2 linked regions of the Homo sapiens genome follow. The protein of the gene in region 2 interacts with the protein of the main gene of each other region in a biochemical or structural test. Each region holds a gene or a part of one and is shown on either strand. Other genes may lie near its edges. The genes, in order: CTTNBP2NL and MAP4K4.

The links.
Region 1: the proteins of MAP4K4 (region 2) and CTTNBP2NL form a complex in vitro, tested with the Homo sapiens proteins (one study listed by BioGRID).

What each region holds. Positions count from the first base shown.
Region 1 is NC_000001.11:112,412,688-112,420,213, forward strand, and holds part of CTTNBP2NL (CTTNBP2 N-terminal-like protein), read left to right. Parts: intron 1-3,469; 5' UTR 3,470-3,478; coding exon 3,479-3,577; intron 3,578-7,526. UniProt on the Homo sapiens protein: Regulates lamellipodial actin dynamics in a CTTN-dependent manner. Associates with core striatin-interacting phosphatase and kinase (STRIPAK) complex to form CTTNBP2NL-STRIPAK complexes.
Region 2 is NC_000002.12:101,693,455-101,700,706, reverse strand, and holds the start of MAP4K4 (mitogen-activated protein kinase kinase kinase kinase 4), read right to left. Parts: upstream 3,001-7,252; 5' UTR 2,627-3,000; coding exon 2,570-2,626; intron 2,443-2,569; exon of another isoform or gene 2,265-2,442; coding exon of another isoform or gene 2,235-2,264; coding exon 2,169-2,234; intron 1-2,168.

The sequences.
Region 1 (7,526 bases), on a different chromosome or scaffold from region 2:
CTCACTGCCATCTCCACCTCCCAGGTTCAAGCGATTCTCCTGCCTCAGCCTCCTGAGTAGCTGGGACTACAGGTGTGCACCACCACGTCTGGCTAATTTTTTTGTATTTTAAGTAGAGACAGGGTTTCACCATGTTGGCCAGGCTGGTCTTAAACTCCTGACCTCAAGTGATCCTCCCACCTCCACCTCCCAAAGTGCTGGGATGGGATTACAGGTGTGGGTAACCATGCCTAGCCGAGTTGGGACATATTAGTGAAATGTTCCAGTTATTAACATTTGTGTGCAGAAGTGATTTATAAACACAGAGATAATAAAAGAATTCTTCTTTGTCATTGACAAGGAATAGAACTTTTTCTTGCCTAGGCTGGACTGTTTTGTAATTAAAGTGACTCTGAAGATTGTTTTAATTTTACTCTTTTATAAGGATGTATATTTATCATAACAGATCAAAGACTTTTTGTTTCATTTTACATATCGAACACTTTAAGTACAATATAATTTAGTTCTTTGTATATGTACCTCTTATTTTTATTTTATTAGAATCTAACAAATAATACTTGGTTTTTACTTAGAAGCTTAAACTAGAACCAAGAAGGACTTCCCAATTGCAAAAGGGCAACTGAAGTTATTTCCGAGGTCATCGATCTTGGCTGTCTGCAGTTTTTGATAGTGCCTTTCTTAAATTCTTTTGAAAAATGAGACAGGATAATAGTTACTAATAATGAAACCAGGTATCAGCAATGTGGTAAGATGTTCTACATTTATTAACTTAATCTTCATAGCAGCCCTATGAGTTAAATATCATCATCCCCCTTTCACAGATTAGAAAACGGAGTCAGATAACTTGCCCAGTCACACAACTAGGAAGATGCAGATGTGGCATCTGACTACCAAGCTACATGTTCTTTCCAATATAACCTCTAATAAAGTGTAGCTTTATTAGGTTTGTTAGAATTTTTTTGTTTAGTTTTGTTTTAGTTTTTATTTTTATTTTTAAAATAAATGTTATCAGATATATCCCTGATACTAAAGTGAACGTCATTTACTAGTTGCTGAAATTCACTTGTTAGAAAATAGAGGCTGGGCGTGGTGGCTCACACCTTTAATCTCAGCACTTTGAGAGGCCAAGGCGGGCGGATCACCTGAGGTCAGGAGTTGGAGACCAGCTTGGCCAACATGGTAAAACCCCATCTCTACTAAAAATACAAAAATTAGCTGGGCATGATGGCATGTGCCTGTAATCCCAGCTACTTGGGAGGCTGAGGCAGGAGAATCGCTGGAACCCGGGAGGCGGAGGTTGCAGTGAGCCAAGACTGCACCATTGCTCTCCAGCCTGGGCAACAAGAGCAAAACTCTGTCTCAAAAAAATAAATAAATAAAAAGAAAAAGAAAAAAAGGCCAGGTGTGGTGGCTCACACCTGTAATCCTAGCACTTTGGGAGACTGAGGTGGGCGGATCACCTGAGGTCAGGAGTTCAAGACCAGCCTTGCCAACATGGTGAAACCCCGTCTCTACTAAAATACAAAAATTAGCCAGGCGTGATGGTGGTTGCCTGTAATCCCAGCTACTCAGAGGCTGAGACTGGAGAAGTACTTGAACCTGGGAGACGGTGGTTGCAGTGAGCCGAAATCACCCCACTGCATTCCAGCCTGGGCAACTGAGTGAGACTCCATCTCAAAAAAAGAAAATTAGCAGTTAGAGCTGAGGTTACATCGAAGATGTTTTACTATGCTTTAAAAGACTTGGACAGCATGTCCTGGAACACAATCTAACAACAAAGTGAAGTATGCATTTTATACATGTTCACTTAAAAGCAGTAGCTCTGGAAGGAATCAATTCTTTTTTTGTGTGCCCCCCAAAATTAAAAAGAGTGATAAATTACTGGAGGATGTGTGAACTGGTCATGTTTTGATTCACTTTCCATAAGAGTGGCAATTTGAAAATAAAAAGTGGAGAGAGAAATATTTGTTCTACTTTGGAAATTATAAAATATATCTTACCATACACACTGGTCAGAAGGCTCTTCCAAGATTGTACAGCAGTCTAACTTGTATCTTTATGTGGTTTGTGAGAATTAGTGTTGTAGAAAGGATTGAGTTTGTGTCATGCAATTTGCCATTTAACATACTTTGGAACATGCAGATTCTCAGAGAAATGTGAACTTACCAAGTCAGATAAATTCAGTTTTTGGTAGCCTAGCCAATTAAGATGTTTAAACAGGCCTGGCACAGTGGCTCATGCCTGTAATCCCAGCACTTTGAAGGCTAAGGTGGGAGGATCACTTGAGCCCAGGAGTTTGAGTCCAGTCTGGGCAACACAGGGAGACCCCATTTCTACAAACAATAAAAAATAAATTAACCAGGCGTGGTGGCATGTATCGGTGATCCTAGCTACTTGGGAGGCTGAGGCGGGAGAATTACTTGAGCCCAGGAGGTTGAGGCTGCAGTGAGCCGTGTTTGCACCACTACACTCCAGCCTGGGTGACAGAGCAAGACCCTGTCTTAAAACAAAAAAAAATAAAGATGTTTAAACCCTATACTTTGAGAATTCATTTAAAAGTAAGTTTGCATATAGTTGAATTAAGTCTATTTTACTATACAAGATATAAATATTGTGTTAGCTATTGTCTGTGAAAGCAGACAATTTAAAAGAAAAATTTCTCCCATACTCCCACCAAACATTATCTCTTTTCCCGAATTTTATTTTAACCAATTGAAGAGGGATATCAGAATGTTTTATATACAGTTTTGGAAATTGGTTATCTAAAACTGGGAAATCTTTTGATGGTCTATCAATTTTTCAGAGAAATGGTATTCATTATAACACAATTTTACCTGAAAAATCAGTGGCTAATTCTTGTTTGCTTTTTTTTTGGTTTTTTTTTTTTGAGACAGAGTCTCACTCTGTCGCCCAGGCTGGAGTACAGTGGCGTGGTCTCGGCTCACTGCAATCTTTGCCTCCCGCGTTCAAGTGATTCCCCTGCCTCAGCCTCCCGAGTAGCTGGGACTACAGGCGTGCCCCACCATGCCCGGCTAATGTTTTGTATTTCAGTAGAGACAGGGTTTTACCATGTTGGCCGGGATGGTCTCGATCTCCTGACTTCGTGGTCCGCCCACCTTAGCCTCCCAAAGTGCTGGGATTACAGGCATGAGCCACTGCACCCAGCCCTAGCGGCTAATTCTTTCTGAGATTTCCTAGGATATTTGTTTGTAAACGTGTCTGGAGGAAATATGATGAAAAATTGATCTTTGTGAGTGGTAGTGAAATCAATAATTAAAGTGAATTTTACTTTCTGTTGTTGCTTAGTTTGTGATTAACACCAGAAAACATATTTCTATTTAATTTCAACTATTTCCTTTATTAAGGCATTTGATACTATAATTGCTCTTATCTCTCACTTTATTTTTTCTTTAATTGTATCAAATTAACTATGTCTTTGGAGATTGTCTGATTGTTACCTTTGTTTCAGGCTTTCAAGATGAATCTGGAAAAACTCAGCAAGCCTGAACTCCTGACACTATTTAGTATTCTTGAAGGAGAGCTTGAAGCAAGGGACCTTGTTATAGAAGCCTTAAAGGTATGTTAAAAGAAAAAAAAAAAGAGGTCATCATACATTGTGAAAGTCATTCATTAGTTTTAATTTATTTAACTAAGGTATTTCTGCAGTTTCCATTGAAATTAAATGGAGGACATACTGATACTTGCCATAGGTAGCCACCTACATTGTGTGTTATTAGGGACACTGGTGAAACCTTTCTGTTTTCAAAATAGTTCCCTTAGTTTCTCGATCTGATGTCTAGACCTTGAACTTCATTCTTTTTTTTTTTTTGAGACGGAGTGTCACTCTGTCGCCAGGCTGGAGTGCAGTGGCGCTATCTCGGCTCACTGCAACTTCTGCCTCCTGCATTCAAGTTCCTGCCCCAGCCTCCTGAGTAGCTGGGACTACAGGCGCACACCACCATGCCCAGCTAATTTTTGTATTTTTAGTAGAGACAGGGTTTCACCATGTTGGCCAGGATGGTCTTGATCTCTTGACCTGGTGATCCGCCCCCGCTTAGCCTCCCAAAGTGCTGAAATTACAGGTGTGAGCCACCACGCCCGGCAGAATTTCATTCTTTTAGTTTAGTGGCCCTTAGCTGTTTTTGAACGCTGACCCCTTTGAGACTTGATAAGAGCAACTTCCTAATAAATGTACATACATCCATATATCAAAATTTGAAATATAATATCTGGGAGATCAAGGATCCCATGAAAACATCCACGGATTCCCTGGACCCCAGATTAAGAATTCTTTTGGTAGTTTTAGCCCATTTCTAATTGTCACTGCTAATTGCCTATTGTTAGTCTCACTTCTTTGCCCCATTTATCATCTGTCTCAATCCCTTCATAATTAGGATAGGAGTGGAGGTAACAGCTGCCTCTAATGGAAAAATCAGAGGATGACCTCGTTTTCTCTTTTATAGTTTTACCGAGATAACCTGTCTGCTTTTCAGCCTTAGAAACTGTACAAACCTGTAGTGCTTTATGTGTCTATTTACTAATCACTGTATCCTCAGCACCCAGCATAGTGCCAGGCATGTAGATGCTCAGTAAATGTTTGTTGAACAAATGAAATGATTGTACCATTGTGGTGTGTTACTTTAAAAGATTACTATAATACTTCTAAGTGGATGTTGTGAATTACTAAATTTTAAAGCCTCTTCTTATGTACTCTGCAGCACATACTGCCTTCTGGTTTTAATGTTAACAGATGCTTAGATGCTTTTTGCACATGTTTTCCTAAAATATATTTTTTTCTTCATGAATCCAATTTTGGTTACTATAGGCAGTTCTGATAAGTTGAGAGAGAAGCTTGAGAAGCAAGAGCTAAAATTAAGGGAGCATTTTGATATAAGATACCATTCAGAATCAGGCACAAGTGTTGTATTTAGTCTGCATATGGTCTGTAGGTGATAAAATTATTCTGAGGCTTAACTCTGTGCAGTTTAGGTGAAATGAATAACTTCACCAGAAGTGACATATCTTTAAACAATCTATTGTTAGATAAAATAGGGGGCAGCCGGGATTAAAATTGTTTCAATCGTTTGAGAAAAGTAACTGCCATAGCATTCTTTAAACTGAAGTATCATTTTATTTATGGAGTTTTGGGGGGTTTTTTGTTGTTATTTGTTTTGGTTCTCCAATGTATCAGGATTTTACTGCATTATTTGTATCGTTTTTGCTTAACAATAAACACCTGTTGGACTTTATGAACTACTATGGCAACTTACCAATTTTCTTCCTTTTAATATTGGTTCTTAATTGATGCTTAGTCGGTTGAAAAGGTTTTGGTCTTTGTTCTAAATAGTTATGATTTGTTTTTCTTTTCTGTTTTGTCTCCAGTAAAAAAAAGCTTATCTTTTTATTTTCTCCCTAGCTTCAAAATAGATTTTTGTCTGGACATAAAATCTGTTCTTTAATCTTATATCTCTAAACAAAACCATATGGCTTACTGTCACTTCTTTGGCAAGGCTTGAGTTTCTTTCAGGATATGTTGTAAAGTTCCCATAGGCTGTAAGTTGACCTCACCTATAGAGTTAGAATTGTAAAAGAGCTACATTCCTATTCCAAAATTTCTGCAAAGTGCCAGATTGCAGCTATACTCTTCTAGAGCCCCCCATAATTACGTTCTTTTTCTTCCCAGAATCCTCCTCACTCACTCTCTATTGCAGCCAAGACATGTTTGGCATAGAACCAGGGAAAGCCAATAGAAAATAATGTAACACATTATTCAGTGTCTTGTATATTTCAAATCTAATTGTTATGGAGGGGACCTATACTATATTTGGTCCTAATTAAATTTTATTTAAAGTGGTTTTCTGTTTTAGAAGGAATCATGTCAGAAAAAAAAAAACTTCTTTATGAACGTCTTTCCCTTTTATTACTTTAATTTCATGAATAAGAACACCAAAGGAATACCCTCTACAATGAAAGCAAATTACATTGCTCATGAACTGTCTGGGGGAAGCAGAGAGTGGAACCACATAGTTCAGCAGGAAAGCCTCAGTTCATTAATTCCAAGCAAATCTAGTAAATGGCTTCCTACCATAGGCTGTGATTGCTTCAGAGGAGAATAAAGGAAGGTTAATCAATGGCCATTTTAAAAAATCTGAAAAATAGATTTGACTGCTAATAAAATTTAGATTAAATAGTTTATTTCTGAATATTCCACATCGGGTATATTACATCTGCACATCTTAGATCTGATGCAAAGCCACACTAAATGGCTTCTGTGACTAAATAGAATCCACCTTGCATTTATTGGTATTGCTTTATTTTAAAGCATTCTTTAAATCATCTATACAATGATAAATGGTGAAATATTACAGCTTTCATGTGCGATTAACTTAAGGAGTCTTGAATTCGTTTCCATTGATGCCTCAATCATAAAATAGGGATATCCTCTTTTAAAACCGAGGATAGAACTTTGTTGTGTTTGGCCAAATGCTGTTGCAAAATCCCCCAAGCAAGAAGATTTACAGGCAAAAATGTTGTAGACATGACAAAGTTAGAAGTATATTTAGAGTATGAGATTATGTAATACATCATTCTATAGGTTTAACTGTTGTGAGTTTTTTCAGCCACAAAGGGTTAAAATGAAAAAATCGAAATGTTATGTCTTTGTTGAAACAAATAATTTACTTTCACTGAAAATATTATTGAAAAAATAATCATAAGGATCTAATGACAGTGCCAAAATATAGAAAACAAAAGTTACCATGGAAGGTGCTGTGGCTTAAGAACATCACAGCTATGATCATATAGTGGTTAGTACTCTGTGTTGTGCCTGCAGCAACCTCAGTTGTATCCAAGTTGTGGCACCAAAAATTAAAAAAAAAATAACAATGCAAGTTCACTATAAGTCCATAGCCTAACATCTGCCTTTGGTCACGGCCTTGTACTTATTATGGAAGCAGATTATTATAAAGACTGGTCTGAAATGAAAAACGTAAAATTGAACTTAGCAATCACCATACATACTAATAAGCCTGTGAAGAGAGTTTGCATTTTTTAAAAAAATCAGATATTAGCTTGCTTGATAACAGATCTTTGAAAGTCTTAAACGGACTCAAGTTGAAACATTCTCTGGCACCCATAAGCCTGGACCTAACAGTTCTTTGGCCAAAAATGATCCCATTTTAATAGATGGTTTTTAGGAAGAGCTTTTAAGATTGGGATGGGTGGTTTCGATCATTGATAAAGATCACATGAACACATGAACATAAGCTATAACTGACAGAAGTCCAATTTCTGTCTAGTTCCCAACTGGGATATTAGGGTGGGAGCAGAACTTTATTTAGGTTACTGAGTTATAAGGTTTTTATATTTACAGTATTCATAACCTTTATTATAAAACGTTAATGAATTAATCAGTGACCATTTGTGGCCACATTTTAATATGTTTTTTAGAGTTGGAGTGGCTTTTTTTTTTTTTTTGAGATGAAGTCTCGCTCTGTTGCCCAGGCTGGAGTGCAATAGCATGGTTT
Region 2 (7,252 bases):
AACAATGTGATTGTGTAAAAAAGAAACATTCTAAAGTATTTACAGCTGAAATAGCATTTGGGGTTTACATTAAAATAAAGGAGGAAAAGAAGAATACAGATGAGAAAAGATTAGTCATCTGCTGATAAACTGAGCTCTCTAGTCTTTATGTTTGAAATTTTCCATAATAATATAAAAATGTAACTGCTTATGAGCAAAATCTCAGGCACTATTTTGTTCTGGACTGTAGGCAACTTTTGCACAGATTTAATTCCCTAGGTTTGCATAATTAGAGAAATTCTCAACTGTACCGACTTTGTAGTCAGAGAGCTGTGTCATGCCAGTATCCCAAATACCTACCAAACGTAGCTAGCGCTCAGCAAACCTAGTTCAAAAGCTCGGGAAGGTTGCGGGGAATGGAACCAAAATGGCAATGAGGGGAAATAACAATGAACCTGACTAAACTCTTACCATAAACAGCTCCCACCTCTTAAAACCAATAAAGACAAACTGGGGTTTCATTCTTTCCTTTCTCTTAAGGTTTAAAGACTATATCGCCTTCTAGCTTACTTCTCTGCCCTTAACATCCATGCTGACCAAGTAAGACACAAACAATCCAACTACTGTGTAGCCAGGTCAAAAACAAGCTCTGGCTAATTCACTTGGAAGACTACAATCACCATTTAATTTGGCGAGAAAAAACTGGGTTAGAAAAAAAATGACTGGTGCTTAAACAAACAACAGACCGGGGAGAATGTCTTTTAGCCAGTTACCAACCACTCAGTGAGTTGCAACACAATCTTTTCCAAAATTTTCCAAAGCCTTCCAAATTCAGTTGAGCCGGGCAAGCTGAGTTAACGGGGCTCTCTTTCAAATTCAAAAATCTGGCCCCGGCCCGAACAGTTAACCAACAAAACACAAGCTAATACACTTGAGATCACCTAAGAATACTGACCCAAGTTCGGACCACAGTCCAGTACAGTACACTACCCAGGCTAGAAGTCTAGGCTAAGGAGAGGCGTTCAAGTGATAGATAAACTCTACTCACAACGCAGAAAAGAGACAATAAGATCCACACTTAATCTAGCCTAAGAAAAGGTCTACAGTCGGCTTCCAACCCCCCCAACTCCACCCATTTTTAATGAGACAATGACAATTCTTCATGGTGAACCACAGAGCCCTGCTTCCCTAACCTTGTACCGACTCTAACAGAACACTCCCCCAGTGCAGATTAAACTTTTAGAAAACGTTCAGTATTGAGAAACAAATTAAGACAGGAAAAATTTAACATTCCGTTCTGAATTTTCAAGGCCTGCGCCTCCATTCCCTACACATCTTTCATAATCTCTAGACTGTACAATGTATAAAATGAACACTGTTAGTCACATCAGGTGTCAGCTACTCAGCGCAGACTCAGTCTCCAGATTTGCTAGTTTCATTTATCGCTGGGGTGGAGGGTGGGTGTTAAAATTTTGAAAAAAGAGAAAGACCTGGGTGGGTGTAAACCAGGGCATCCTCTATATTCTCTTCGCTCTCTGTCATTTCTGTTTCAATTACACAGCTGTCAAACAGGTTATTCCTGGAATTCAGATTTTATAATCCCCACACTGTAATTCTTCCTGCTGCTGTTGCCCAAACACACACTCCTCCCTGCTTCCCCAAAATACGTATCCATCAATAGAAAGGATGACAACCACAGTTATAAAGTATTCCCAGGTAACGCCAAACTCCCCACCTTGAGCAACTGGCAAGCACTGAGTGGAGGCTGAAACATGATGACAATTTTCACGATGGCCAAAGCAGTGGTTTAGGATCGTCAGAGGCAAGGCCCGCCTCCACTGTATTTCAATTTACACACAAACTCAGAAGGCCGGATTTGGGGAAAAAAAGAAAAAATTCAGGTTGTCTTATTTTTAAAAAATGCTTTTCCATTTTATCGAAGTAAAGTGCATGCCTAAGAGTGTAGCTTATTTCCTTATCTCAAAGCCAGGAAATGAGGTCTTTTAAGGCCAGTCTGAATATAAACTCGGTGTGCAAAAACAGAGGGACTGCAAGGCGAAAGAAACCCCTCTCCCAACTTTGGCCAAGCGGCGTGGCCTCCAGTCAGCAGCATGTTTATCACCCTCTCCTCGTCCCCCAATAAGAAGTTTCCACATGCCACGGGAAACAAAGAAGGCGCCCACACCGACCTTATAGACTTGTCCATAGGTGCCATTTCCAACCACTTCCACCAGCTCAAAAATCCCAGCAGGATCCTGGAGAGGAAGGAGGGGAGGGGTTATCATTTAAAAGAAGCCAAAAAAATGAATAAATCAAGCAAGGCAGTTGGAGAGAAAAGGCGGTGACAAAAGAGGTGGGCTTCGCCCCGCGCGGTCCCCCAGCGCCCGGGGGTCGCGCGGCGGGCTCGGGGCGTGGGGGCGGTAGAGGGTAGCGCCCGCCCCGCACCAGCCCGCACAGGAAGACAAAGGGGCCGCCGCGCCCCGCGGCTCTGCCCACGGCGGCGCCCGAGCGCCCGGCCGACCTGGGCGCGGCCCCGGCTGCCGGCTGCCGGCTGCCCGCTCCCCGCGCGCCCGCTCGCGGGCCCACTCACCCGCAGGGAGGAGAGGTCGATGTCCACCAGACTTTTTGCAGGGGAGTCGTTCGCCATTTTCCCTTTTTGCCACCAAAAAACAAATAACAATAAATGTCTCTGTCGCTCTGTGTATCTCAGCCGCAGACCAGGCCGCCGACCGCGCTCCTCGCGCGGCAGCCGAGCCGGCCCGGTACTCTCCTCGCGGGGCCGCGGGCGGCGGCGGCGGGCTCGGCTGCGCTCTCGGGCCGCTCGGGGCTCTCTGCCGGCCGGGCCGCGCGGAGGGCGGACGGAGCGTGCACGGGCGGCGGCGCTCACACCATGGCGCGGGGCCGGCCGTCAGGCCCCCGGGCGTCGCCCGCCGCCTCAGGCCCCGGCGCCCGCGCCCCGCGCCGCGCGCCTCGAGGACGGGCCCGGAGCGTGGGGCCGCGGCGGCGCCGAGTTGAGCGAGTGAGCGCGAGGCAGCGAGACAAAGATAACCCGGGAGGCGGAGGCGGAGGCGGGGAGCGAGGTGGGGAGGGAGGGGGCGGCGGCGGCGCTGGAGGAGGAGAAACGGGACACCAAAAATATATTCTGAGGAGAGAGAAAACAGCTCCCCCTTTCCTCCTCAGGCAGGAAAAACCGGCGGAAACGCACTCACACCCCGAGCCCTGCCGGGTAGGGCGCGGGCCGAGGCGCCCGCGCGGCGTGAATATTCATCAGGGGTGGGGCTCGAACAATGGCCGCGCCGGCGGGCAGCGCGGGCAGCGGTCCCGACACGACGCCCGGCGCCCAGGGTGCGGCCTCCGCGCTCGACCCCGCACGGCGCTCCCGAAAACTGCAGGAGCGGGGAGGAAGCGGGCTGGGATTTCCCCGGGGAGGAGCTGGGGTGGGGAAACGCCCCTACCTCGCGCTAACAACAAATGACACGAAACTGAGCTGGACCGACACTAAGAGGCCATGGACCCTCGCGTCTCCCAGGGCAAGGGTGTGTCCCGCCGGCCGCGTCCCGGCTCTAGAGGGACCCGAACCCGGTGTTGCCGAGCGGAGGAGGGGCCTCCCTCGATCCTCGCCCCCTCCTCGCCCCATTCGCCCCATCCCCCACTCTCCCACACCCTAGAGAGGAGACCCTTAAGTCCCTCGTTTCCGGCTTCCCTGCACGGTTTTCTTTTCCTTTCTCTGCTTTTGCAGGCTAAATGTGTGGTACGGTTGTGGTTGTAGTTGTGGGATTCGCTGAGCATCGCTGGGCTGCCCGGCCATATCCAAAACAGCTCCTGTAATTGTCTGGCGCTGCGCTCCTGGCTGCGCTCGGTAGGTGAGCACTGTGTTTGGGGCCCTTAGTACCAACCCGCATTTTGTAACCTGGAGATCACTAAGGATCAACCAACAGGTTTCTTCCGGCAACCTCGGAAGCCAGTCGGTAGTTAGGCACTTTAATGCCAGTGAATCAACAGTCATTTATATCGCATTCCTCCACCGTCCAAAAACTTTCAGTGGTTCCCTGTTACCTGACAGGTGTTCTCAAAACGTGAGTGCTTCAGGCAAAGTGCCAATTGCCTGGCCCTGCCTCCCGAGTTCTCGTTTCAGGAGGTCTGCAATGGGCCTGAGAATGTGCATGTGTAAGTTCTCAGTGTAGCTAACGTCGCTGTTACAGGGATCACTCGTTGACAACAGTGGCCTCCGGCTATTCATGATTGGATTTTCATAAACATCACCATCATCATCTACCAATTCTTATGCACATACTGTGTCTCCCCCACACAAACGCGTTGTGCCGAGTGCTTTACACACAGCACTCTATTTACAGCCTTGAAGGAATGTTATCCTCCTTTTAGGTAAGGAAAGCAAAGTACTGAAAGATAAGGAGTATGTCCAAATTCCTTAAAAGCACAGCCTGGAAGTGGAGCAGGGATTTTCACCAGGTTAGCCTGTTCCCAAAATCCAGATCTCTGATTCAGCCAAGTTAGCTCTACCCAGAATATGTATAGCACTATCCTGCTTCCCAACAGTTTGGTTTCTGAAATTTTTGACTATGAGAATCCCTGGTAAGGGTAAAATATATAGAGGGGCTCCTGGTATCCATTTGTAAGGAAAATTATAGTAACCAAGTATTCCTATGAATGTATTGGTGCTTTTAGATAATTTTGGTTTTTGTCAGCAGCAATGTCATTATCTATGAGTGTAAATAAAATAATTTACTCAGAGAACTAGACAGAAACACATCTGAACTTTCAGGCTATCTTACTATTGATAACATTGTTTTTTGTTTGTTTGTTTGTTTTGAGACAGAATCTTGCTCTGTCACCCAAGCTGGAGTGCAGTGGAGTGCTCTCAGCTCACTGCAACCTCTGCCTCCTGGGTTCCAGCAATTCTCCTGCCTCAGCCTCCCCAGTAGCTGGGACTACAGGTGCCTGCCACCATGCCCAGCTAATTTTTTATTTTTAGTAGAGACAGGGTTTCACCATGTTGGCCAGGCTGGTCTCGAACTCCTGACCTCAGGTGATCTGCCCACCTCGGCTTCCCAAAGTGCTGGATTACAGGCATGAGCCACCATACCTGGCCTATTGCTAACATTTTAAGTGTTTATTATTAATAATAGATGATACAACGTGCTAAGTCCTTCACATGTATTATCTCATTATTCTGCTCTTAATTCCAAATGACACTCCATTATTCCCACTTTATATGTTAGAAAACCAGCCCTTAAAAAAGTTAAGTAACTTGCTCACTATGCACAACTAGACCTGATGCAGAAACGCCAGGGCCCCTTCCAAAGCAGCCTCCTTCCACAGATTCAACTCCAAACCCATGACATTGAAGCCCACCTCACACCAACCCTTCCTCTCAATCTATCCAAATTCCTTCATCACCTCAAGCCCAACTCAAAATCATCTCTTCCTTCTCCTACAGGCTTTCTTTAAATCTGTCTCTCTCCTAAGCTGCTATGTCTATATCACCATTGTGACCATTATCTCCCACTTTAGAGTCATTACCTATTCTGGAAGTGCCTACACAGTGCAAGGCGCTGGCTTAGCCATTGCCTGGGATATCAGGAAGATCAAGACAGCCTACCCTCAAAGAGCTTACACACTGATAATAGGCATAAGACAGCTTCACAAATAACCATAGTACAAAGCAGAACAGTGTAGATTTTAGCAAGATGGAAAGAGTACTAAACAGGTCTAGTGGAAAGTATGCTGGATTTGGGCAAAATTGAACTGGGTTTGAACCCTAGTTATTGGTCAGTTGTGCAACCTGGCATGTGTTTCTTCTGAGCCTCCCTTTCCTCCTCTGCATACCAGATGAAGACTGGAAATGAGAAGAACAAGCAAGAGGCAAGAGCCTATGCCAGGGTAATAAAGGGTGACAGGAGATATTAATATAAGAGGTCTTGAGACAGCAGATTCTCTAAGGCTTGGCATCTGATACGATGCCAGAAGGCAGTGTAGAAAAGAAGGTAAGAGATTTGTTTGTGGTTCAGAGCTTGGGAGGATGTCCACACTTGGGAGGATGCTGTCACAACAGAGTAAAGGATGGGAATTACTAAATGGTAGCAATAAAGGAAGATTTAGTTTTGAACCCAAAACCAAAGTTAATTACCTTTTCATGCAGGAGCAGTGTACACATGCCCAGCTTGAAACTCCACTCTAGCGCCCAGCATAGGGGCCATGTTTTCAATCAACACCCATGTATTAGCTTGGGCTGCCATTGCAAAATACTATATAGCCTGGGTGGCTCAAATAACAGAAAATTGTTTTCTTGCAGTTCTGGAGGCTAGAAGTCCAAGATCAGAGTTCTCACCAAATCGATTTCTGGTGAGGGTTCTCTTTCTGGCTAGCAGGCAGCCTCCTTCTTACTATGTTTACACATGGCCTTTCCTCAGCACGCTTGAGGAGAGAGAATGAGTTCTCTGGTGTCTCTTATGAGGCACTAATCCTATCCATCAGGGCCCCACCCTTAAGACCTTGCTTAACCTTAATTACTTCCTTAGAGGCCCTGTCTCCAAACACAGCCACACTAGGGATTCAAGCTTCAACAAATGAATGGAGGGATTGGGGGAGGGGACACAAGTGCTCAGTTCATAAAAAGCTGTGGGTAGTACATGATGCCAGGAGGTAGTCTTGTCACTGCCTTTGTCCTTAATAATCTGTTGAGGACACAAAATAAATCCACCCAAAAGGACAATCAAGGTGATACAGTGGAAAATAAATACCAATTTGACATTTTACATAGGGAGGAAAACAATGTAGCTTGCTTGGACAAAGAATGAGAAGTTAAAAGAATGAGGAGACTGGCCCCACTGGGCAGCGGACTCAGTTCAGAGAACCCTGAGAAATAGAGCAAGATGGCTGGGCACAGTGGCTCACGCCTGTAATCCCAGCACTTTGGGATGCCGAAGCAGGCAGATCACTTGAGCCCAGGAGTTCGAGACCAACCTGGCCAACATGACAAAACCCTATCTCTACTAAAAATACAAAAAATTAGCCAGGCCTGGTGGTGGTTCGCACCTGTAGTCCCAGCTACTTGGGAGGCTGAGGCAAGAAAATCGCTTGAACCCAGAAGGTAGAGGTTGCAGTGAGCCAAGATTGCACCACTACACTGCACTCCAGCCTGGGCGATGGAGCAAGACTCCGTCAAAAAAAAAAAAAAAAAAAAAGGAAGGAAGGAAGGCTGGCCATGCGGGATGGCTCATGCCTATAATCCCAGCACTTTGGGAGGCTGAGG